Homo sapiens: one gene and its partners. The protein of the gene in region 2 interacts with the protein of the main gene of each other region in a pairwise test. Each region holds a gene or a part of one and is shown on either strand. Other genes may lie near its edges.

Region 1 (3,500 bases), on a different chromosome or scaffold from region 2:
TCTGTCTCAAAAACAAAACAAAACAACAAAAAAAAACGCTTGGGTTTCAAAAAGATTCCAGTGACAGTGAAGGGATTTGTTAGATGGGGCCTGAAGGTACGGACAGACCAGTGAAAAGCTACTGCAGTTGTCCAGGTGAGAGTGAATGGTAGCTTGGAAAAGGCTGGTGGCAGTGAAAGTAGAGATGGGTGGATGAATTTGAGGCAAATTTAAGTCAGCTCTTTCAGATGTAATAGATTGACTATGGGCATAAGGAAGAAGAAGGTTGTTAAGGCCTCCTCAGAATTTACGCTTGTGCAAGTGGTGTCACTCTCTCAGGGAACACTGGAAGAGGAACAGATTATTATTATTTTTTATTCGGAGTCTCGCTCTGTCACTCAGGCTGGAGTGCAGTGGCACAATCTCGGCTCACTGCAACCTCCGCCTCCCGGGTTCAAGCGATTCTCCCGCCTCAGCCTCCCGAGTAGCTGGCACTACAGGCGTGTGCTAACACGCCCGGCTAATTTTTTATATTTTTAGTAGAGACAGGGTTTCATCATGTTACCCAGGATGGTCTTGATCTCCTGACCTCGTGATCTGCCTGCCTCGGCCTCCCAAAGTGCTGGGATTACAGGCGTGAGCCACTGCACCCAGCCTAAGAGGAACAGATTTTTTTGGGGGGGAAAGGTGGGGAGGGGAGACACTTGGGAATTCCATTTTGGGTACAGTTGACATATATAAACTCCAAGAAGGCACAGTCTTTCTTGTTCCGTGCTGTATCCTCAGTGTCATGCACAGTGCTTGATATTTGTAGGTACACTACAAATATTTGTGAAAGTACATAACTGAATATAGTCTAACGGAGAACCTTGGAATCTTTTCTATGTGGAATGGTTAATTTTATGCGTCAACTTGGCTAGGCTATGGTGCCCAGTTGCTTGATCAAACACTAATCTATGCCAGGCACATTGAGTCACACCTGTAATCCCAGCACTTTGGGAGACTGAGGAAGGTGGATTGCTTTGAACCTAGGAGTTTGAAGCCAGCCTGGGCAACATGGTGAAACCCCATCTGTATAAAAGACAGAAAAAATTAGCCAGGCATGGTGATGCATGCCTGTAGTCCCAGCTATCCAAGAGGCTAAGGTGAGAGGACTGTTTGAGCCCATGGGTCAAGGCTGCAGTGAGCTGTGATTGCAACACTGCGCTCCAGCCTGGGTGACAGAGTGAGACCATGTCTCAAAAAAAACAAAAACCAACTAGTTTAGATGATCCTGTGAAAGTATTCGTAGATGTGATTAACATTTATAATCAGTTGACTTTAAGTAACAGATGTTACTCTATATAATGTGGGTGGGCCTCATCCAATCAAGTAGAGGCATTAAGTGCAAAAACAGGTTTTCTGGGAAGGAATTCTGTATCAAGACTGTAACATAGAAATCCTGCCTGGACTTTCAGCCTGCTTATCTACCCCTATAGATTTTGTTTATTTTTTTTGTGACAGGGTCTCACTCTGTCACTCAGGCTGGAGTACAGTGGTGTGATCTCAGCTCACTGCAACCTCTGCCTCCTGGGCTCAGATGATTCTCCCACCTCATCCTCCTGAATAGCTGGGACCACAAGTGCGCACCTCCACGCTTGGCTGATTTTTTTTTTTTTTTTGAGACGGAGTCTCACTCTGTCGTCCAGGCTATAATGCAGTGGCACGATCTGGGCTCACTGCAAGCTCCGCCTCCCAAGCTCAAGCGATTCTCCTGCTTCAGCTTCCCGAGTAGTTGGGATTACAGGCATGCACCACCATGCCTGGCTAATTTTGTATTTTAGGCAGAGACGGGGTTTCTCCATGTTGGCCTGGCTGGTCTCGAACTCCCAACCTCAGGTGACCCACCCGCCTTGGCCTCCCAAAGTGCTGGGATTACAGGCGTGAGCCACCACACCTGGCCTACGCTTGGCTGATTTTTTTGTATTTTTTTAGAGATGGGGTTTCGCCACGTTGCCCAGGCTGGTCTCGAACTCCTGGACTCAAGTGATCTGCCTTCCTCGGCCTCTCAAAATACTGGGATTACAGGCATGAGCCACTGTGCCCAGCCCTACCCTATAGATTTTAGATGTGTCAGCTCCCACAATTATGTGAGCTAATTCCTTAAAATAAATAACCTTTTTTTTTTTTTTTTTTTTTTGAGATGGAGTCTCGCTCTGTCGCCCAGGCTGGAGTGCAGTGGCCTGATCTCCGCTTACTGCAATCTCTGCCTCTCGGGTTCACGCCATTCTCCTGCCTCAGCCTCCCGAGTAGCTGGGACTACAGGCACCCGCCACCACGCCCGGCTAATTTTTGTATTTTCAGTAGAGACAGGGTTTTACCATGTTGGCCAGGCTGATCTTGAACTCCTGACCTCAGGTGATCCACTTGCCTTGGCCTCCCAAAGTGCTGGGATTATAGGCGTGAGCCACTGCACCCGGGCCATTATATACTCTACGTTCATTTTTCACTAATCCTTGGACAAGTGTTCATAACAGCAATGAAATACATTCAGTGCTATTTTATCTTTCACCTTTGACAATGGATTCAATCTCTTTCATGGCAGCTTCACTTTCAGCTTCTGCGAGTTTTTCATTGATTTCCATTATTTCTATGAGGAATTGCCTGTCCATTTCATAATCTGTCCTTTCAGGAATCTCTATTCCATGGAGCTTTAGCTATTGGGGTAGAAAGCAAGAAAAATAAGTTGAAGAAGCTATGGGCAGAGTAATGTAAATCCTACTCATCCATTAGGAAATAATACCACTAATAGAGAAAACTGCAACTGTCCCGATAATGAAAGACTAAGGGGTATCAAAAGCTTGGACTGAAACAGAAATGCTGGAATGGGATTTCCACTCATGCTACCCAAAACTATGTGACCTTGGTGTGATCTTGGGGTAGTCATTCCTCCACTCAGAGGTTGAACTAGATGTTTGTAAAGATTCTATTCAATTATAAAATTTTCTAGATTGTAAGATACTTTTTTTTTTTTGAGATGAAGTCTCACTCTGTCGCCCAGGCTGGAGTGCAGTGGTGTGATCTCAGCTCACTGCAACCTCTGCCTCCTGGGGAAGCAATTCTCTGCCTCAGCCTCCCGAGTAGCTGGGATTACAGGCACCCGCCACCATGCCCGGCTAATTTTTTTGTATTTTTGGTAGAGGCGGGGTTTCACCATCTTGACCAGGCTGGTCTTGAACTCCTGACCTCGTGATCCACCCGCCTCGGCCTCCCAAAGTGCTGGGATTACAGGCGTGAGCCACCATGCCTGGCCTCTTAAGATACTCTGGAGAGGAAAAAAAAACAAAACAGAAAATGACTCTTAACTAAAAGCTACCATCATCAAATCCTTGAAATTCACAGAAAAAAGCTAGAAAATCACAATTTAAAAAATGCAGTTGAGGCAAGTAATATTCACAGAGAAAATTATACTTGTGCTCTGAGGCTAAATACTATTGGGTCCCTGGACTTTTTTTTTTTTTTTTTGAGAGGGTGCAGTAGTA
Region 2 (3,500 bases):
ACCTCAGCCTTCTGAGTAGCTAGGACTAAGGGCACCTGCCACTATGCCTGGCTAATTTCTAAAGTTTTTTTTATAGAGGCAGAGTCTCGCTGTTTTGCCCAAGCTGTTCTCAAATTTCTAGGCTCGTGTGATCCTCCTGCCTCAGCCTCCCAAAGTGCTGGGATTATAGGTGTGAGCCACCACACCTGGCTGATCTATCTGTCTTAAACTGGAGAATTGCATTTTTTTCTACCTCCTTTCTTTTTTTTAAAAAAACTGAATTTCCATCTGTTACCCCTCCCTTTCTGCTCCTCTTATTTCATGCCTTGGAAGTTATACTTTGCCTTCCTTTAATGAGTACCAAAGAAATTAAAAAATACATGTTTACTGTAAGTCCAGGCCTAAATGTTGCTACTACAGGGACCATCAAATGCTTTACTACCATCTATTGCCATCTGCAAATGTATGCCATTGTTGTTTAGTTTTGTAGTTCTTAATGTATTTTAATTAAACACCACAAATTATGCTTTTTGTTTGTTTTATTCAGTCAGTAGATGCTTAGAATACTTGCTTATTTTACCAATTCCTTTGCTTATTCCACTCCTTTGTTCTGGGATTATTTTTCTTTTTCCTAATATATTTTCATTAAAAGTTTATTTGGTGAGAATCTAAAAACTCTCAAATTCTGAAAGTTTTAAAAATTTGCCTTTGTTGTTGAAAATTAGTTTTGATGGGTGAGAGAATCTAGATCAGGTGTTAGCAAACCTTTTTTTGTAAAGGGCCAGATAGTAAATATTGTGGGCTTTGTGGGCCATAGAGTCTCTCTGACAACTACTCAGCAATGCTGTTGTAGGACAAAAGCAACCATAGACATTATGTAAACATGAGTGTGGGTATGTTCTCACAAATTTTGTTTATAGACACTGAAATTTGACTCAATTTTCATGTGTTAAAAATTATTATTTTTTGAATTTTTTTAACCATATAAAAATGTAAAAATCATTCGTAGCTTGTAGACCAAATAAACAGGATGGATTTGACCTGTGGGCCATAGTTTGCTGACCTCTGGTCTAAATTAACATTCATTTTACTTAGTACCTGACACTGGAGTAATTATTCTTATGATGTCTTATTGTGATATTGTCTTCCATTTTTAATTGTTGAAGAGCCAGCTGTCAGTCTTTTTTGTTTTTCTTTTTCTTCTTCTTTTTTTTTTGAAATGGAGTTTTGCTCTTATCGCCCAAGCTGGAGTGCAGTGGTGTGATCTTGGCCCACTGCAACCTCTGCCTTCTGGGTTCAAGCGATTTTCCTGCCTCAGCCTCCCAAGTAGCTGGGATTACAGGTGCCTGCCACCACACCCAGCTAATTTTTGTATTTTTAGTAGAGATGGGGCTTCACCATGTTGGCCAGGCTGGTGTTGAACTCCTAACCTCAGGTGATCCACCTGCCTTGGCCTCCCAAAGTGCTGCAATTACAGGCATGAGGCACGGCGTCTGGCCTTTCTTTCCTTTTTTTTTTTTTTTGAGACGTAGTCTTGCTCTGTTGCCCAGGCCGGGGGGCGATGGTACGATCTTGGCTCATTGCAACCTCTGCTTCCCAAGTTCAAGCCATTCTCCTGCCTCAGCCTCCCAAGTAGCTGGGACTATAGGCACGTGCCACCATGCCGAGCTAATTTTTGTATATTTAGTAGAGACGGGGTTTCACCATGTTGTCCAGGCTGGTCTTGAACTCCTGACCTCAAGTGATCCTCTCGCCTTGGCCTCTCAAATAACTGTCCTTTCTTTGTTGGTAATCTGGTGATATGTTTTCTTGTTTGGCTGCTTTTAAGAGCTGCTTCTTGTCTCTGGTGCAGTTCGCTATGATGTATCTAAGTATGTATTTATTTTCATTTAACCTGGTCAGGATTTGTTGAGTATCCAGAAACTAAGGATTGGTGTTTCTCATTACATCTGGAAAAATTTGAGCCATTATTTTTGCTTATATTGTGGTATGTCATAGGAAGTTGAGAAAAGAAAAATTCATTTGATGGTTTTCTATGAGGTTATAGTGGAAAATAACTATCTCCCTTTTAGAATTGAGTGCTAGACAGTTTCTGTGTAGATGATCTCATAAGCTTCCTTTTATCAAACAGCGATCACTTTTTTGGTTTGGCTGCTGAGAAGTATGGCATCAAGTATAATACTCATATGAGGTGTTTAAGAACTGAGTATATTTCTTATGCACATTTTACTATATACTATAATTATACATTAAAAATGCACATTGTAAATATTATAAATATGTGTTATACATTGTTAATAGTTTGGATAGCAAAAGTATGACTTGACATTTGTTTTTTAAACCATATTTAAAGTAACTCTATCACAATATGGATTTAATGGATTAATTGCATAATTGGTGAGCTACTGATTATTCTTGTTATTTGGATGCTTCTTTAAGTTAGCAAGTTTATATTGTGGTGCTTCAATATAGACTACTTATTTCATTTCAGAGAACTCAATTTCCTGTATCTACTGAGTCTCAAAAACCCCGGCAGAAAAAAGGTCTGTATGCAGTTTCATGGTATGTGTATGTTTGCACAGACAGATTTCTCTTTTATTTATTTATTTATTTTTTTTTTTGGAGGCAGAGTCTCACTGTCACCCAGGCTGGAGTGCAGTAGCACAATCTTGGCTCACTGCAACCTTTGCCTCTGGGGCTCAAGCAATTCTCCTGCCTCAGCCTCCCGAGTAGCTGGGATTACAGGTGCACGCCACCACACCTGGCTAACTTTTGTGTTTTAGTAGAGATGAGGTTTCACTGTGTTTGCCAGGCTGGTCTCGAACTCCTGACCTCAGGTGATCTGCCCACCTTGGCCTCCCAAAGTGTTGGGATTACAGGCGTGAGCCGCCACGCCTGGCCAGATTTCTCTCTCTTGTTGATTCTTTTATCTATTCTATATTATTTCAAAATGAGTGTTGGGAAAAGAAGTAATAGTCTAAATGTTCTGTCACATCTAGCTTTTATTTAATAGAGTTATTAGATATTAGGAGGTTGGTTTGACCTGGAAATTATTTAAATGGGGTTTGATTATTATGTAAGTGTGTACTAATTTTCTGCTTCTGGAAAAACCACTTTGTGAAGTTCCAGGTATCTTTTTGCTTTGTTGGTTTCTAGTTTAATTCTATTGTGGGTAGAGAACATTCTTTATATGGTTTGTTTTATGGCCCACAATGTGGCCTGTGTTGGTGCATGTCCCATGTACACTTGGAAATAATGTGTATTCTGCTCTTGTAGGATGTAGCATTCTGTAAATGTCAATTAGGTCAAGTTGGTTGATAGTGTTCTGTATATACTTACAATTACAGATATTCATATTCTTACTGATGTAGTTACTGATTGGAAGGGTGATAGAAGAGTGTTGAAGTGTGCAAATGTAATTGTGGATTTGTTTCTACTTTCAGTTCTATCAATTTTTGATTTGTGTATTTTGAAGATCTGTTGTTGGATGCATATACATTTAGGATTGTCTGATTTCTTGG
Region 3 (2,858 bases), on a different chromosome or scaffold from region 2:
GTACAAGACTACACCACGGGTGGCAGAGATATTGAACACAGCCTGTCACCTTGCCCTGTAAGATCTCTGGCTGTGTATCCACTTTTTGAGCAAGAGACTTGAGTTCAGAAGACCTGAATTTTAATCTCTCAGCTCTGCTATAAATGTGGGATCCTCAGTAAGTAATTTTACTTCTCTGGACTTGGTTTTATCACCTGTAAAATGAAAACCGTGGGCTTAATAGATCTCTCATATAGGCTTGAGTTGCTTGTATGACTGTCTGTAGTTGTTTTTAGAAAAGTAATGACAAGTACATGGAAATAAATATTCAAATACTGTAGAGGGCAGGTAATAAGGAAATGTCATCTTTCCTGTGCCCTGACTCCCAGGTCTTTCTCCCAGGTCTTAGAGTAAGCCCCTTTGGCTAATTCTGTCTTATTCCTCTAAATAATATGTTAAGTCTCTGTTTCTTCATTTGTTAATCTACACAATACCATTTGTCTTTGTATTATTCAAGGTAAGAAATTTAGCATACTACCATCAATATTTTAATTTTAGATATATATTTTTATGATTTACATCCATTTCTTTTATTACTTAAATAGAATTAAAGCACTATTTCTTAACCCATCAGTTTTAAGTAGTATTCCTGACTCTCTTTGCTTTCTTCCACTTCTCCTCCCCCTTATATTTCCTAGCTTCTGTCAGTTAAATCATCACTTTTATATTGTCCAAAGTTATAATATTTAAATTCTCTTTTATAACTCTGGTTGTCTTAAGTGCTGTAACTATAGGTTAATTCTGAAAATTGAAAGTCAATACAGTATCATTATGTGAATATTATTTACTGCAAAACTACGAAATATGCCTGGACGTGCAGATGACAAGGTAGTCCTGTTTCACCAAACCTGGGCCACTTGAACAAGAATGCTCCAAGCATTGAAGTCACATTAATTCTCTTATTATACTCCACAAGTTGCTCAAAATCATTCTACATTTTTAGCTGGCTTCGTATTGTGAATGGCTTTAATTTTCAAATACCCTCAAACTTGAAATTTAGATTGGTAGTTCTCAAACTTGACTGTACATTGGAATTACTGAGGGAGCTTTAAGAAATCTAATAGTTAGAGGATCCCAAGTCTAGGGTTTCTGATTTAATTGAGCTGGGGTGTGGCCTGAGCATCTCAGTTTTTAAAATTTTGCGGCTTGATTCCAATGACTAGCAAGAGTTGAAGACCTTTACTGTTGAAACCCAGTCATGTCTAGTAGAGTCAAAAGTAATGAAATACACTGAGTCTTTGGACAGCAAGAGCAGAAAAGTGAAACCCGATAGCAGCTGAAGGTTTATAGAATATTTATTTCTTTTTTGGTTGCAGCTATCTCCTTCCCAACCTACCACTGCTAAGACTGTTTCATAAGATGCACTTCTCTACACTCAGCTAATGAGGTGTTTCAATCAGCAGTTGTTCTTTGGATGAGGAGCCGATATTGTTTTAAAGCCTATTATTTTCTTGGGTGGGTATTCTGGAGCATGGGGAGCTGAAAGTGTTGCAAGGAAACTGCTGTGTGAAATTTGATCAGGTCCTTGGTATTCATTTTTATGTTTCAATAACTGATTTATTTTTTCCCCCTTGTACTTAAGATTTAACATGTGTTGTATTTCCAGCAGTTCAAATCTAATTGTGTCGAATTTCCAGGATTGGAGGAAAAGTTGCTCCCTTTCAGCCCTCCTACTAGAAGCACTGGAGCTAGGCTGGCGGGCATTGGACCCTAGTAGGTATAGCAGGCTGTGAAGAGCGACTGGGTGGAAGCAGCCCCAGAAGAACCCGTGTGAACATACTGTCCTTTGGCCGCCTGGCAGTTAGCCTAGAAGACAAATATGAGAGAGGAGACTGGTTAGAGTAAATGTGACCCCACCTTGACCCTGTCTGCCTCTCATGGGAAACCAGTCAAACCTTCACTCAGATTTTCTTCTTTTTACAGCAATGTTGCTGAATATTGCTGGGGATACCATCCCCTTCTATAAAGTATCTCCCCTTTTTATCCCAGTTTTCTGAGCATTTCTTTGGTAAGCTTGAGGTTTGTGTCAGTTACTGGGGAAATCTCTGTTCAGTACCAACAATATTGCAGCAACAGTACTAGAAACTAAAGTTGAAAAATTTCTCACTAGTATAGTACACTATACCAAAAGAAAAACATGTTTATTTTAAAAACATTTCCATTTTCTACCTATATTGGTCTAGAAGAATATGTAATTTTTATTTAGTTATTGTAGTATCATTTGCTTTCCTGTATACATTCCAGTTAAAGATAAATTCAGAATTATGAAACTTACGACAATATTTGAATGTCACTCAGTGGTACCACTTCTTCCAGTCAGTGTTGCTATTGTCTGTTCTCTCCAGGACTTATTTCTACATTTTACATCAATGGTTCTCCAACTGTGTTTCATGGTCTACCAGCATCCCTTAGGAACATGTTAAAAATAGAAATTCCCTGGCCTTACCCCTGACCTACTGAATTAGAAACTCAGTGGGTGAGACCCATAATCTGCATTTTTAACAAGCGCTTCAAGTGGGGGTAGGGGAAATGAAAAGAGGTTGGTAATGGGTACAAAAATACAGTTAGGCAGAAGGAATAAGTTCTAGTGTTTGATACAACAGTAAGATGACTATAGTTAACAATGATTTATTACATATTTTAAAATAGCTGGAAGAGAAGATTTGGAATGTTCCAAACCCAAAGAAATAATAAATATTTGGAGTGAATACCCTAATTATCCTGATTTGATCATTATACATTATATGCATATATAAAAAATCACAGATACCCCACAGATCTATACAATTATTGTGTGTAAATATAAAAGATCATGACAA
Region 4 (3,500 bases), on a different chromosome or scaffold from region 2:
GAAATGTGACCTTCATACTTTCCTTATCTTAATATCTGGGTAAACATTTGTTGTGCAAGCACACAAATAAAGGTTCTAAAGGTGAAATGTGGTGTGTCCAGCAACACCACACTGCTCCAAACCCAGGCCCCAGAGAGTCCTTTTGGCTCTGCAGAGGACTTCTCTCTCCCTTCACCCTGGGCACCAAGGCACCAAAATTAGCTTCGTTGACCTCAGCCAGCTCTGGAGTGAACGCTGCCATTCGAAAATAGCATCTGAGAACTCTTGGAAACACAGGAGAGAAATACAAGGGTACAGTGGTTTACAGAAACTTACTGCGAAAGCAATCTCACTGGAGTGCTTTTTTAACTAAATACACAGGAAAGGGGCATTATGAGGATTTACTCCAATCTGTGGAAAGTGAATTATATGCTTCTAGCTCCCATCCTGATTAATTCTATTAAGTGTGATTGTTTTCATTTAGAAAAATATTGCAGAGGTAATGTTCATAAAGAGAGTTTGTCAAATGACCCATGCTTTGACCCAAAATTTTGCTGTACTAACTTGCACAGTCCTATTATTTCTAGACACTCTCTAAAAACATTGTGTCTCATTTCCCCATATATTTGATATATGTGATTTTTAAAATCTTGTCTTGAAATGCAGAAGGAAGGATTCTCAAGCAGTTCCTCAAAAGGCACAATTTTCTGTTGTTTCTATGTGGAATTCATAAACAAAGCCAAGTAACCGAGTTTTTATGTGTGCTTAAAGGCACTCTTTCCTGCAACTGTGTGTGACGTATTTTTCCAGGACAATCTTTCTCAATACTCCAAAGTGCTTCAGTAACAGGAAGTCATAAAGGTAGGAAGGAGGCCTGTAAATATTTGCTGTAATTGCTCATTAGTAATGAGAATGGCTGGCATTGAATTTTGAGTCACCCTTTTGTGCTCATGGCTCATTACCTTGTAACTGGAGCCCAAGGTGGTACATATGGGCTTTCCCTCACCATGGACAACCAGGTCCACTTCTAGGTTTTACTTCAGACAGTGTGGCTTGTTTCTCTCAGCACCTCCATTTCCCAAATATAAAGGAAGGAAAGCATGCTGGTCTTCTTGCTCCCTGCCCCCTAACCAGAGGCAGTCAGGAAAAAACTTATACAAAGTAGTGACAGTATGCAAAGTTTTTATCAAAAGTGAAATGTGTGTATTTTTTTAATACTATACTAATACAACATCGAGAGACAGATAAATACTGTCTGGGTAGACACACAGCACAATGATTTAAATGATTACCAAAAAATAATCATATACTTTAATGGATGTATTTTAAACAACTTATAAAATGCTTCTGAACTTTCTCAGATTCAGCTCATGTGTCCTCTTATTCATAACAAGCCACTGACTCCCCTTAGTCACAGGCCAGCATCAGGGCACCTCGGACTAAAAATGAGACCAAAACACTCAACCCGTTACAGAATTGATTAACTTCTAAGAATACTATTGGCTGTACCCCCTGCTTCTGGGGGCAGCCTACAGGGCAATGGGGGTTACCTTCAGCACCACAATCATGAGTACAACATAATGGATCCACTTTCCTGCCCACGTGTTTGATTACACGGCCTAACCAGATAAAATCACTAATTTGTTAAGATTGCTACCACTTATCTCTTAGTTTTTTTAATAGGAGAGTTCCATGGCTGGGGATGGGGGGATAGTTCAAGAAGTCACTAGGGGTGTATGAGACACTTCTAACAATCCACTTCCATGGCTTTATAGAATTCACAAAACGTCAGATGAGTACATGGCAAATAAACATATGTTTCAATGGGGTCATTTTTCTCATTGACAAGACACCCTTTCTGAAATATTTTTCCACATGAGAAAAGGATCTGTTCACAGGATCATTATCTGGCATGGAAATTACTTATAACTTTAAAACTGAGGAATCTTTCCAAGTTCGGGGGAGTGGGGGCAGTGGGAAATGTGCCTCCTGGAAACATGTGGAACTTCTGGCAGTGATGTCATCTAGTAAGAGTTTTGCTGACGTACAAGTGGCCCCTGCAAACAGCCTAAGGCAGTCAAGCAAACAGGTATTTCTTAAGAAATTAGAAAAAACAAGGTCACTTAGAAGTGGATAACATTCTTGTCCATTCCACACCTGACTCTTCAGCTCCAGGTATCTCACAAAGGGTCTCGCCACTCTTCTTCACTTTATGCTTTCATCAGATCAGTTATGGGGCTTCCAACAGTGGGAACAGACAAGGGTCACCAAATTACACCCAACATCTACTTGAAAATTACAGATGCTATTAGGGGCATCCCATGGATGACCACCACATCGACTGTGATGCACAGTTGCCAACACGGCTTGCTTCTCTCTTGATTAAGGTATGTGTCAATGCAATTCTGTTTGGCAGCACTAGAAAAACTCAAGGTACCCTCTAGGTTCACAGTGCAGGGGCCAACAGTGTGATGGCTGTTAAGGCTCAGGGCTCATCAGCGAAAGGGCTCTATAGAAATGCAACATGCTATTATCACAACAATCATAGCTATTCTTTATCCCCCTATCCATTCTTTCCTTCCTGTGCTTGCAATTTCAAAAGATCAAAAGAGCCACAGGAAGTCCTGTGCATCTTGATGGTTCTTCAGAAGCCACAGAGGAAGAGCTTCTAACAGGTTCTCCTGCACAATGGAGTCCGAAGGCTGAAGTAATTATTGAAGTCTTGCCACCAGCGAAGGGTGGGATGTGGAAAGCTTTGAATTTCTTGGGGCAGGAGAGAACCACCTCTTGTCAGGGTCTAGGAAAACCCATGAAAAATAAGAAATTCAAGGAGTTCCATGTTGGCCTTTCAGATCTTCAATCCCTATCTGCTTGTGAGGTTTGATGCAAGTGATAAATCACAAAAAAGAAAAGTAATTATAATTACAAGGAAAACAACAAAGGCAGTTGTCATTTATAGAGCACTTATTGTGAGTCAGAAGCAGTATTAAATACTTTATAGATATCTTCAGTAAGGGAAGGGCGTATGGAACACCCATTGAGAGTATAGACTCTGGGGACCTCCTTTACTCAGGTTGAATGCAGCTCTGCCCATGCTACCTATACGACCTTGGGCAGTTAGCCCTTCTAGACTTCAGCTTTCCCATCAATGAAGTGGGGATAATAACAGGGCTTATCTCACAGGATTAAAAAGTTAATCCATGTAAAGTTCTGAGGACGGCACTGGCACAAATAAGACTGTCAGTTTTTTGTGTTGTCCTGATGCAAAATATAATTTCTATTAAGACCACATACATTCCTAGAACATGAAGGTCATCCAAATAACTGTTTGAGGATGATGGAACATTTGAGGATAAATTTGTTTTCACAGTCATTTTTCAGAAGCATTAATAAAATGAATCATACCAGTATTTACCCTGTGCAGGGCACTTGGCTTCCCGTCCTTCCAAGACTGAGGGCAGACATGTAGGTGGACGGACACGCCAGCCAGGGACAGGGAAGATTAAGCGGCACCTCAGAAC
Region 5 (3,500 bases), on a different chromosome or scaffold from region 2:
GAGGGAAGGGCAGAGGGAGAAAAGAAGAGGAGCCAAGGGGAGAAGACAGAGGACAATGTTAAGAACAAGATGGAATGTTAAACAAAGATGGAATAAGAAAGTTGATATAAAAGAAAGAGGGCACAGGTAGGGAGACAGAATCAGATAAAAACAAAAGATGTTGGAGAATGAGGGAGAGGGAAGCAGGAGGAGGAGAAGAAGAAAAAGAAGAAGAAATGCTAGAAGAAAAACACTTAAGAGAGAGGAGAGGAGGGGAGAGGATAGGGACTGACTAAAGCAGGGCAGAGGGAGGTGACACAAGTGGGAGGCAGAGAACAGTCCTAGAGAACCAGTATCTCTCAGGAAGACCCTATGTGGACAGGAGCTCAGGTGAGAGGAGTTGGCAAATAGGTTGGGCTCTGGACCTCAAGCGGGCAGGCAGTTCCCAGGGGTGGAGCTGCGTTTCCTGCCTTTCTCTAGGTGGGATCTGGTTTCCTCCCCTTCCCTGAGCCCTCTTACCAATGGTGTGGCCAGGGGCGGTCACTCCTGTCCCAGCCCCATCCGGCGTTGGGTGGAAAGGCTGCTGAACTTTGGTCCGGATGATTCTGCAACAGCGTCACAACAGCATCACACATCAAATGCCCACTCCTATCCCGGCCAATTCCAGCCCAGCCCTGCAAAGGGGCTCTCTCCCAAGTTCCTCAGCGATTTCCTCATCCATCTGCTCCCTGTGTCCCTGCCCTCACTGACTGCTGCAAGGCACAGGGTTTTCCTTCTGTTGGCTCCGCAGATCCAACGTAATGCAGCTCTGGGTGAATGCAGCCTGCCTTATGTCCTGCTATGTGCATCACCCAAATTATTGTTTGATTTTTGGTAGCAAAGATCAGGGCAGAGACCCAGTGAGCACAGCATCCTTTCTTTTTCTGCAGGGTGAGGACTGCCCTAGTGGCTTGTTGTCCACCTTTCTCTCCTCAACCACACACGCATCTCTTCCTGGTACCAGGACCTCCTGGGTTTTGAGATCATTTTGGAGCTGGCTTTCCTACTTGGGACTGTGTCACAGTCCTTCAGAGTTGAGAGGATGAGATTTCCCCATATCCTGAAAGAATGAGAAGTAGCCAGGGAGGGGCTGGGTCACAGGTGACCCTTTCTTTTGTCCCCAGGACTCCAACACAGCACACAGTCCCTTTGCCAGATGTCAGGCTGAACAATCTCTTCTTGAGCCCACTTACTGCCCTCAAACAAGTCAGAGCCCTGTTCCTATATGGCTGGCTGGTTTGCTGGCCTCCTTTTCTGAGGTTCTTACTTGGATTGCAGCGTCTTTGCCAGCCTGGTTGAAAGGTCTGGTGCCCTCCCTGTACATCCTGGGGAGAAGGGGCCAAATCAAACATTCCAGGAGCCTGCTTTTCAGGGATCTGAAAAACCGAGGGCTCAATGATGCCAAAGACCAGTCCCAGGGCCAAGACGGAGGAATGCTCCCCCTACCCACTGGTCAAATGAGGGGCCTTTGGAAGCCACTTTTCTGATAGCGTTCCTTGTCCCCACAGAGAGGCATGTGAGCCAAGCTCACCTCAACCAGCCAGGTGAGTCACAAGCCATGAGCAAGTCAGCTCTAAAAGCTTTTCCTGAACACTTGCAGGCAGTTGGGATAAGGCCCCTAGCTCACAGTGCTGGATATGAAGGTGGGGAGGGGAGACTTAATCCCCAAAAAAGCTCAGTTACCCGAGGGAATCAGGTAGTTAGTGCTGGAAACTTGGAGGAGAGGAACCATTCCCCTTGCAGGAGAGGGAACTGCGGAAGAAGTCGCTGAACAGAGGGAAATTGATGTAGATCTTCAAAGCCAAGTAGGGCTGAAATCAGAGGCACAGAGGATGGCGGAAAGGACACTGGGCTGCATGGCAGGGGCCCTGAGTCCTGCTTCTGATTTTGCATTTAAGAAGCCACATAGCCTTGGTCTCACCTCTCAACTTCTCTGGGCCTCAGTTTCTTCAGCTTTAAATGAAGGGGTTGGACTACAGGATCTCCACTGTCTCTTTCCCCAGTAAAAAATAACTTGATCCTAAGATGAACAAAGAAGTAGAGGGGAGGGCATCACAAGCTGGTGGAAGCGGAAGCCACGCGAGCCTGCTGCCTTCTGGGTTAATGCCCAGAGTGGTCAGCCAGAATGAGTGGAGACAGGCAAGGGACTAAGAGGAAACAAGAATGAAAACTTGGATGTGATGAGAACCATCACCATTTTCCACTTACTGAACATCTACTATGTGCCAATATTATACACAATTTATATGACATATATATTACTGTTAATTCGCACAACCACCTCCAAAGTAGAGACTATTATCCTCATTTTGCAAATTGAAAACCAAAGCTGAGACAAGTTTAAGTAGCTCACTCAAGATCACACTACTGGCTGGGTGCAGTGGCTCACGCCTGTAATCCCAGCACTTTGGGAGGCCAAGGCGGGTGGACCACCTGAGGTCAGGAGTTTGAGACCAGCCTGGCCAACACGGTGAAATCTCGACTCTACTAAAAGTACAAAAATTAGCCAGGCATGGTGGCAGATACCTGTAATCTTAGCTATTCAGGCAGCTGAGGCAGGAGAATTGCTTGAACCCGGGAGGCGGAGGTTGCAGTGAGCCAAGATCAAGCCACTGTACTCCAGTCTGGGCAATAGAGTGAGACTCCATCTCAAAAAAAAAAAAAAGGCCAGATGCGGTGGCTCATGCCTGTAATCTCAGCACTTTGGGAGGCCGACGCAGGCAGATCACGAGGTCAGGAGTTTGAGACCAACCTGACCAACATGGTGAAACCCCAACTCTACTAAAAATACAAAATTAGCCAGGTGTGGTGGTATGCACCTGTAATCCCAGCTACTCAGGAGGCTGAGGCAGGAGAATCGCTTGAACCCAGGAGGCGGAGGTTGCAGTGAGCTGAGATTGTGCCTCTGCACTCCAGCCTAGGCGACAGAGTAAGACTCCGTCTCAAAAAAAAAAAAAAAAAAAAAATCACAGTACCAATTAGGGAAGACTCAGAATGCAGCCTCTAAAATCTATGCTTTTTGTTACTTTGTCATCCTGCCCCCAACATGTAGGAACCAGGTTTAGAGGGCCTTAAGCCATGAGTGATTTCTAAACTAGGGGGGATCTCTACAAACAGATCCCAGTAAAGCAACATACATATACATGAGGCATGAGGCGATAGGGAGCTGGTCTCAGGAAAGAAAGGGAAGAATTTGCAAGACAAGAGGAAGGCAGAATGGTCAGAGTTTGGCAACCAACTGGAGTCAACCATGGTTTTACAAACTCAGATTTGTGTAACTGGAAGCTTGGTGGAGTTTACATCAGCAGGTCAGGAATAAGGCTATAGGGAGGTGACTGGTTTTGGAGGGAAGTGGTGATGTTGGTCCTAGATGTGCAGCATTTGAGGTGAAAGAGGAGCGTCCAGGGGCAATGCCCCTGCATCAGCAGGCACACAGAGGTATGGATTTAGGAGACTGTCAGGGACCGGGGAAAGGAGTGTTT
Region 6 (3,500 bases), on a different chromosome or scaffold from region 2:
AACACCCTTAAATTCCAGAAAATGGCATGGTTTTTCCAACCTCCTGTGGATATGGTGCATGATCAATCTATTATATAGGATTAATACAAGTTCATGCTTTTTGTGTTATGGTGAAACAACATTAAAGAATCCAATTTAGATTGGTTGAAGCACAAGTATAATAATCCTTGAATGTGATCAAACCTATTTAAGACACCAGTTTAAATCCATTATCTTGAGACTTAACGTCGTACTGTGGTCCATCCATCTTCATCAGTCTCATTTTTAGTACGACGGAGAGATTCCCTATCTTTCTCAGCTCTCCATGAGGCCTTCTCTTTTTCACCTTCTCTTTCTCGGTCTCGGTCTCTTTCTCGGTCTCTTGAAAGAGCTGGGGGAGGAACTCGACGAGGAGGGTCCCGCTCTTCCACCCGGTCATCTTTCCTGTCATCAGCACGTCTCCAAGAACTTACTAAAAAGTTTAATTAAAAAAAAAAAATTAAGTTAGTACTATATTCTATTGGCTCAAATTACTCAAAATTCCTGTACTAAAGATTGTTAAATACAGAAATCATTGTTAAATACAGAAATTCTGTTAAATTCTGTATTGTTAAATACAGAAATCATAATGAAAGCTCATACAATTTCTGACAATCTTTAACATACAAATGTACAGATAAAACTCAAAATCTGAAAACAGGCAGAAACCACTAGCCTGGGAAGGACTACAGTTAGTATAAACCCGTAAGACAAGGTGGCAAAAATCTGGCTGAATGAAAATTTTATAACTGAAAGGATTTTTGGCTCTTGAAGAATTTTAACAGCAAATTAACCATACAAAATACAGGAGTTTTTAAAGTTATGGCTATGAGAGAAAAATTCTCTCATAACAGGATGTCAAGACATATGGAAAATTAATTTTTAAAAACCAAGAGAAAAATGAGGATTTTAAAAATGAAAAATACATATATTTTAAAACAGAATAAACTTCTGTTACAATTTCAGAGAAAATGTTTCTACTTTGTGCTTAATCTGCCAGGAAGCTGCTTTTAAATAACAATTTTTTTCATTTTTATTAAGTAAACTTTATATATATTGCCTGCTATCCAATTTAGTCTACTACTGTACTTTGAATTTAGAGATAAGTGCACTTTACAACATGACCATTGAGTAACTGTATGAAAATCATGAATTCTAAATAGAATATCAACTCTCTTATTGTTGGCCTTCATACAAATTTATGATATAATTAAATAACCCAAATCCCCCCCCCCCCAGAAACGACAGTTCTCCAATACTTCAGTTGTATGTAACCTCTATACCTTCTTCACGTTCTGATCTGAGTGGAGGTCCTCTTCGGTCCCTGTCGTCTCTTAGATCTCGTCTTTCTCTTAGATCACGCCGGTCATCCCTCTCACGGCGACGGTCATCCCTATCCCTATCGTCCCGGCGACTTGAGTCTCTCCAGCTTGAAGATTCCTCAGCTGGTCCTCTTCTCCAGCCACCTTCATCCCTGTAGCCATTTACAATGACAGGTCAGGTTCTTACTGTTAGACCAAATGGATAATTATAAGTACATCCAGTCCAAGCTGGGGCTTAGAGTTTACAAATATAACAGACAGTTTAAACTCATAACCTGACCTTACCTGATGCCTGGGGCGTGGAGAACAAATGAGAACACCCAGATCTGTGCCGTCCCACTCGTTAGCCACTACCCATATGTGGTTACTTACATTTAAAGTAAAACGGAGATATTTCCTTAGGACCATCAACCATATATTCTAAGTGCTTGGCTGCCAAATGTGACTGCTGACTACCATACTGGCCAGCAGACACATTTTCTTCCTTGAAGAAAATTGCATCGAACACTGCTGGTCTACATTTGTCAGTACAAGGACACTTTGGCAGCGGGAACAAGCTAGAACTTCTACTACTAATAAAATCAAAGGGCTTTTGATAATTTAAGGGCAAGAAAACTGACTGCCCTAAACCACAGGGGTAAAAGCAACGGACTGACAAAGATGGCTGGACTGGTTCCAATGCCCAACGGGTCACACAGCCTTTGGACAGCCACGAAGTTTGGGCCTCCATTTTCTTACTTTAAGAGGGAATTTTTTTTTTTTTTTTTTTTTTTTTTGAGACGGAGTTTTGCTCTTGTTGCCCAGGCTGGAGTGCAATGGCGCTATCTCGGCTCACCACAACCTCTGCCTCCCGGGTTCAAGCAATTCTCCTGCCTCAGCCTCCTGAGTAGCTGGGATTACAGGCATGCGCCACCACGCCCGGCTAATTTTGTATTTTTTAGTAGAGATGGGGTTTCACTATGTTGGCCAGGCTGCTCTCGAACTCCTGAACTCAGGTGATCCGCCCTCCCAAAGTGCTGGGATTACAGGCATGAGCCACTGCGCCCGGCCTCTACAAATAATTTAATTAGAGCATCACACCTAGGTCTTCTGAAGCGATCCTCTCGATCCACATCTCTCTCTCTGTCCCTTTCTCTCTCAGGGTCCTTGTCATTCTCCTCCCGATCTTGATTATCTCTGTCCCTTTCTTTTTCTCTGTCCCATTCACGTTCTTCTGATGGCCTTGATTCTCGAGGTGGACCCCAGCTCTCCTCTCTGGCTTTTTCTTTCTCTCTCCATCCACCTGTTTTTTTGAAAAAGCAAAACATTTTTAAAATATTTTTAAAAGAAGAAACAGATTGGCAATCATGAATAGACGTTGGCATTAATTCATCATCATTCTAAATGCTAATTTAAGACACTGATTAAAAAAATACTAAAGCTGTGTACATCACTGCACAGACATCATTAACAGTATCTTAAACTTATATGAGAAACTTAAAATGGGCCGGGCATGGTGGCTCACACCTGTAATCCCAGCACTTTTGGAGACCGAGCCAGGTGGATCACTTAAGGTCAGGAATTCGAGACCAGCCTGGCCAACATGGTAATAACCCTGTTGCTACTAAAACTACAATTAGCCAGGTGTGGTGGTGCGCCTGTAGTCCTAGCTACTTGACTTAGGAGGCTGAGGCATGAGAACTGCTTGAACCTGGGAGGCAGAGGCTGCAGTGAGCCAAGATAGTGCCACTGTACTCCAGCCTGGATGACAGAATGAGACTGTCTCAAAAAACAAACAGGAAAAGAAAAAAAAATACCAAAAACCTTAAATGATCTGTGTTAAGTGTTCCATAAAACAAAAGTATCACTGAAAATTTTAGAATTTTTCCTATTGCACGCAGATTTCAGCATAGTATCTGTTCTGATGTTACACAGATCACTCATTTAAGCAGAAACTTCAAGAGTTTTCTCTGAGTCCCAATTTTGAGGTATTTATACCTTGCAACGTTTTCAAGCCCTTCATATCCAAAAAACAATCTTTCCTTTTATATTCCTGTCCTCCACCATTTGCCACCCATTATCTAGTCATTAATCATGAATAAATCCTTTAACCCTGCACAGTGGCTCACACTTATGCATGGAATATATGAATCTAGGAACATTTTATATACAGTACATATA
Region 7 (2,571 bases), on a different chromosome or scaffold from region 2:
AGACGCAGTGGCTCACGCCTGTAATCCCAGCACTTTGGGAGTCCAAGGCAGGCGGATCACCTGAGGTCAGGAGTTCGAGACCAGCCTGGCCAACATGGCGAAACCTGTCTCTACTAAAAATAAAAAAAATTAGCTGGGCGTGGTGGTGCACCCCTGTAATTGCAGCTACTCGGGAGGCTGAGGCAAGAGAATTGCTTGAACCTGGGAAGTGGAGGTTACAGTAAGCCGAGATCACACCACTGCACTCCAGCATGGGCGACAGAGTGAGATTCTGAACCCACACCTGGTGGTTGTGGGAAACCCGGTCACTCAGGGTGAGTCCCCATGGGCTCCCTTTCCCCCATCCTGTCCCCACCACAATCCAGGCACACTTCATCCTGTTTTCTTCTACCAAGAAAGCTGCAAAGTCCAATCAATTACAAGCTTTCCCTCCTCACTCAGCTCCCTCACCAGGTCAGCTGGTCATTTCCCTACCACCTCCTAAAGGGAGCCACATCTCATGAGTTTCCATCACTTTATTTTGCAAAAATAGAAAACTCAGCAATATGCGATACAGCGGGGTAGAGGGGAGATGTAAACAGAGGGGAGGGGACAGCACCCTGACCCCCCAAGAGAACACAGGGAGCCAATGGGAATCTTATTTGGCAGCTAAATACAAACTGGGGATTGGAGGAAGAAAGGAGGGGTCACAGGGGCCCTGGGCTCCCCCACCCAAGACCCCTGGAGGAAGGGGTCAATTCCACGGTGTAAACAAAAGCTAATAAATAAATAGAGGCTTCCTCTGGGTCAGGGCGGGATCAGCTAAGCAGCATCCCCCCTCCCTGGGCCAAGCTGCTCTGGGGAGTAAAGGGTGGAAGGCACTAGGGAGAGAGGGATCCCCTGGCCCCTCTGTAGTGTAGGAGGGTCCCTGCCCCAATGGCTGAGATGGAGGGCAGGAGGAGCCCAAGGCACATGACAGGGCTGGGGGAGGGACTTATAACGGAGGGCACAGGGTGAACTCTGCACCCGAGCCAAGAGGTGCAGAATGGACCTGCATCTATCTGTCCCTTTCACCCTCTGTTCCTGCCCCAGAAATGCAGGGCCCAGCCTGCCCCCACCTTGACCTGGCACAAGGACGGGGCACAGAGGCTAGCACACACCCTGCAGGTGCATCACACAGCATTAGGCACCAAGGGTAGGAGCAAGAAGGTGGGCTCAGCCCTTCTCCTTTGTCCCCTTTTTGGTCTCTAGTGTTCCTGTTTGCTCTCAGAGAGCCAAGCACCTGGCAGAGGAAGGGGCTGTGGAATGGCAGGGTCTTCCTCTTGCCCTGGGAAGTCTAGGACCCATGGGGCAGTGCTGAGATTTTAGAGTCCAAACCCAGGCTCATCCCTTTGCCCTCTCTCCTGGTGGGAGCAGGGCAGGCCCCCGGGACTGGCGAGGGAGCCGGTTAGATCAGGAAGGGGATGAACACAGAGGCACCCCTAGAAACTTTGGCAAAAACAAGGAGCTCATTGGAAGGGGTGGGGAGAGGGCAGAGCAGGTCCTCCCCCAGTCACTGGCGGTCTGGGAGATGGTCAGTCTGCTGCCTGAAGCCCCAACCCCCACAGCGGGGAGGTCAGGGGCCCTGGTCAGGCTGGGGACTTCAGGCCCCCTTTGCCCTGGCCCCCAGGAACCTCATCCTCGCTAGAGGCATTGGGGTGGGGACCAGGCTGCGAGGAGTCATCCTCAAACATTTCAGGGTTCTCCAGCATCTCTCGGATTAAGGGAGGCATCGGGCCTGGAATCTCCATCTTCAGAGTAATGGCCCTTTCAGCTCCTACAATGGAGAGAGAAAGAGAGAGGCTCAGGAGGACAGAGGCACATGGCCCTTAAGGCCATCTCCCTAACCTTTCTCAACTGCCCCTGACTCCCCTAGGGGGCGCCCAGCACAGGCCCACCACCTCTCCGTCCCCAGCTCATCCTCTTCTCACTAGGCTTCCTGGGTGCCACTCCTCTGCCTGGAACCTCTACCTGGCCTTCTCTACCAGGCTTGCTGCCCATTCATCCCATTCTTTCAGGCTGTCTCTTCAGCGAGCGCAATGCACACAACTTCCAACCCCACTCCCCAAGTACCCCACTCTCGAATGTCCAGAGCTTGTCACTTGTTCCTAGTCCTGTTCTCTTAATAACATTTATTACCACAGCTAATATTTATCAAACACTATGTTCCAGACATCCTTCTAAGCCTGGACTGTCCAATAGAACTTTGCAATGATAGGAATACAGTAGTCATTGGCCACATGTGGCAATCTGAAATGTGACTACTGCAACTGCAGAATGGAATTTTTAATTCAGCACAATTCTAAGTACACTGTATATGTTACAGGTTTTTTTTGTTGTGTTGTTGTTGTTGTTGTTGTTTTAGAGGCAGGGTCTTGCTGGGTTACCCAGGCTGGACTGCAGTGGCTATTCACAGGTACAATCATAGCTCACTGCAGCTTCCAACTTCTGGCCTCAACTGATCTTTCTGCCTCAGCCTCCTGAGTAGCTGGAACTACAGATGTGCACCATGGTGCCTGGCTTTACATTGTATATTAACTAATTTAGTCCTCA

What was found.
Region 1: the proteins of BBS4 (region 2) and HSCB interact in a two-hybrid assay, tested with the Homo sapiens proteins (one study listed by BioGRID and IntAct).
Region 3: the proteins of BBS4 (region 2) and ALDOB interact in binary tests that used the Homo sapiens proteins (3 or more experiments, as listed by UniProt).
Region 4: the proteins of BBS4 (region 2) and EPAS1 interact in a two-hybrid assay, tested with the Homo sapiens proteins (one study listed by BioGRID and IntAct).
Region 5: the proteins of BBS4 (region 2) and PAX2 interact in a two-hybrid assay, tested with the Homo sapiens proteins (one study listed by BioGRID and IntAct).
Region 6: the proteins of BBS4 (region 2) and EIF3A interact in a two-hybrid assay, tested with the Homo sapiens proteins (one study listed by BioGRID and IntAct).
Region 7: the proteins of BBS4 (region 2) and RARG interact in a two-hybrid assay, tested with the Homo sapiens proteins (one large-scale study listed by BioGRID and IntAct).

Annotation. Positions count from the first base shown.
Region 1 is NC_000022.11:28,745,039-28,748,538, reverse strand, and holds part of HSCB (iron-sulfur cluster co-chaperone protein HscB isoform 1 precursor), read right to left. Parts: intron 2,676-3,500; coding exon 2,531-2,675; exon of another isoform or gene 2,490-2,530; intron 1-2,489.
Region 2 is NC_000015.10:72,692,707-72,696,206, forward strand, and holds part of BBS4 (BBSome complex member BBS4), read left to right. Parts: intron 1-2,470; coding exon 2,471-2,522; intron 2,523-3,500.
Region 3 is NC_000009.12:101,420,060-101,422,917, forward strand, and holds the end of ALDOB (fructose-bisphosphate aldolase B), read right to left. Parts: intron 1,846-2,858; coding exon 1,750-1,845; 3' UTR 501-1,749; downstream 1-500. UniProt on the Homo sapiens protein: Catalyzes the aldol cleavage of fructose 1,6-biphosphate to form two triosephosphates dihydroxyacetone phosphate and D-glyceraldehyde 3-phosphate in glycolysis as well as the reverse stereospecific aldol addition reaction in gluconeogenesis.
Region 4 is NC_000002.12:46,303,907-46,307,406, reverse strand, and holds part of EPAS1 (endothelial PAS domain-containing protein 1), read right to left. Parts: intron 1-3,500.
Region 5 is NC_000010.11:100,776,582-100,780,081, reverse strand, and holds part of PAX2 (paired box protein Pax-2), read right to left. Parts: intron 585-3,500; coding exon 499-584; intron 1-498. UniProt on the Homo sapiens protein: Transcription factor that may have a role in kidney cell differentiation. Has a critical role in the development of the urogenital tract, the eyes, and the CNS.
Region 6 is NC_000010.11:119,035,818-119,039,317, forward strand, and holds part of EIF3A (eukaryotic translation initiation factor 3 subunit A), read right to left. Parts: intron 2,623-3,500; coding exon 2,421-2,622; intron 1,493-2,420; coding exon 1,302-1,492; intron 452-1,301; coding exon 222-451; 3' UTR 1-221. UniProt on the Homo sapiens protein: RNA-binding component of the eukaryotic translation initiation factor 3 (eIF-3) complex, which is required for several steps in the initiation of protein synthesis.
Region 7 is NC_000012.12:53,210,069-53,212,639, forward strand, and holds the end of RARG (retinoic acid receptor gamma), read right to left. Parts: intron 1,796-2,571; coding exon 1,608-1,795; 3' UTR 501-1,607; downstream 1-500.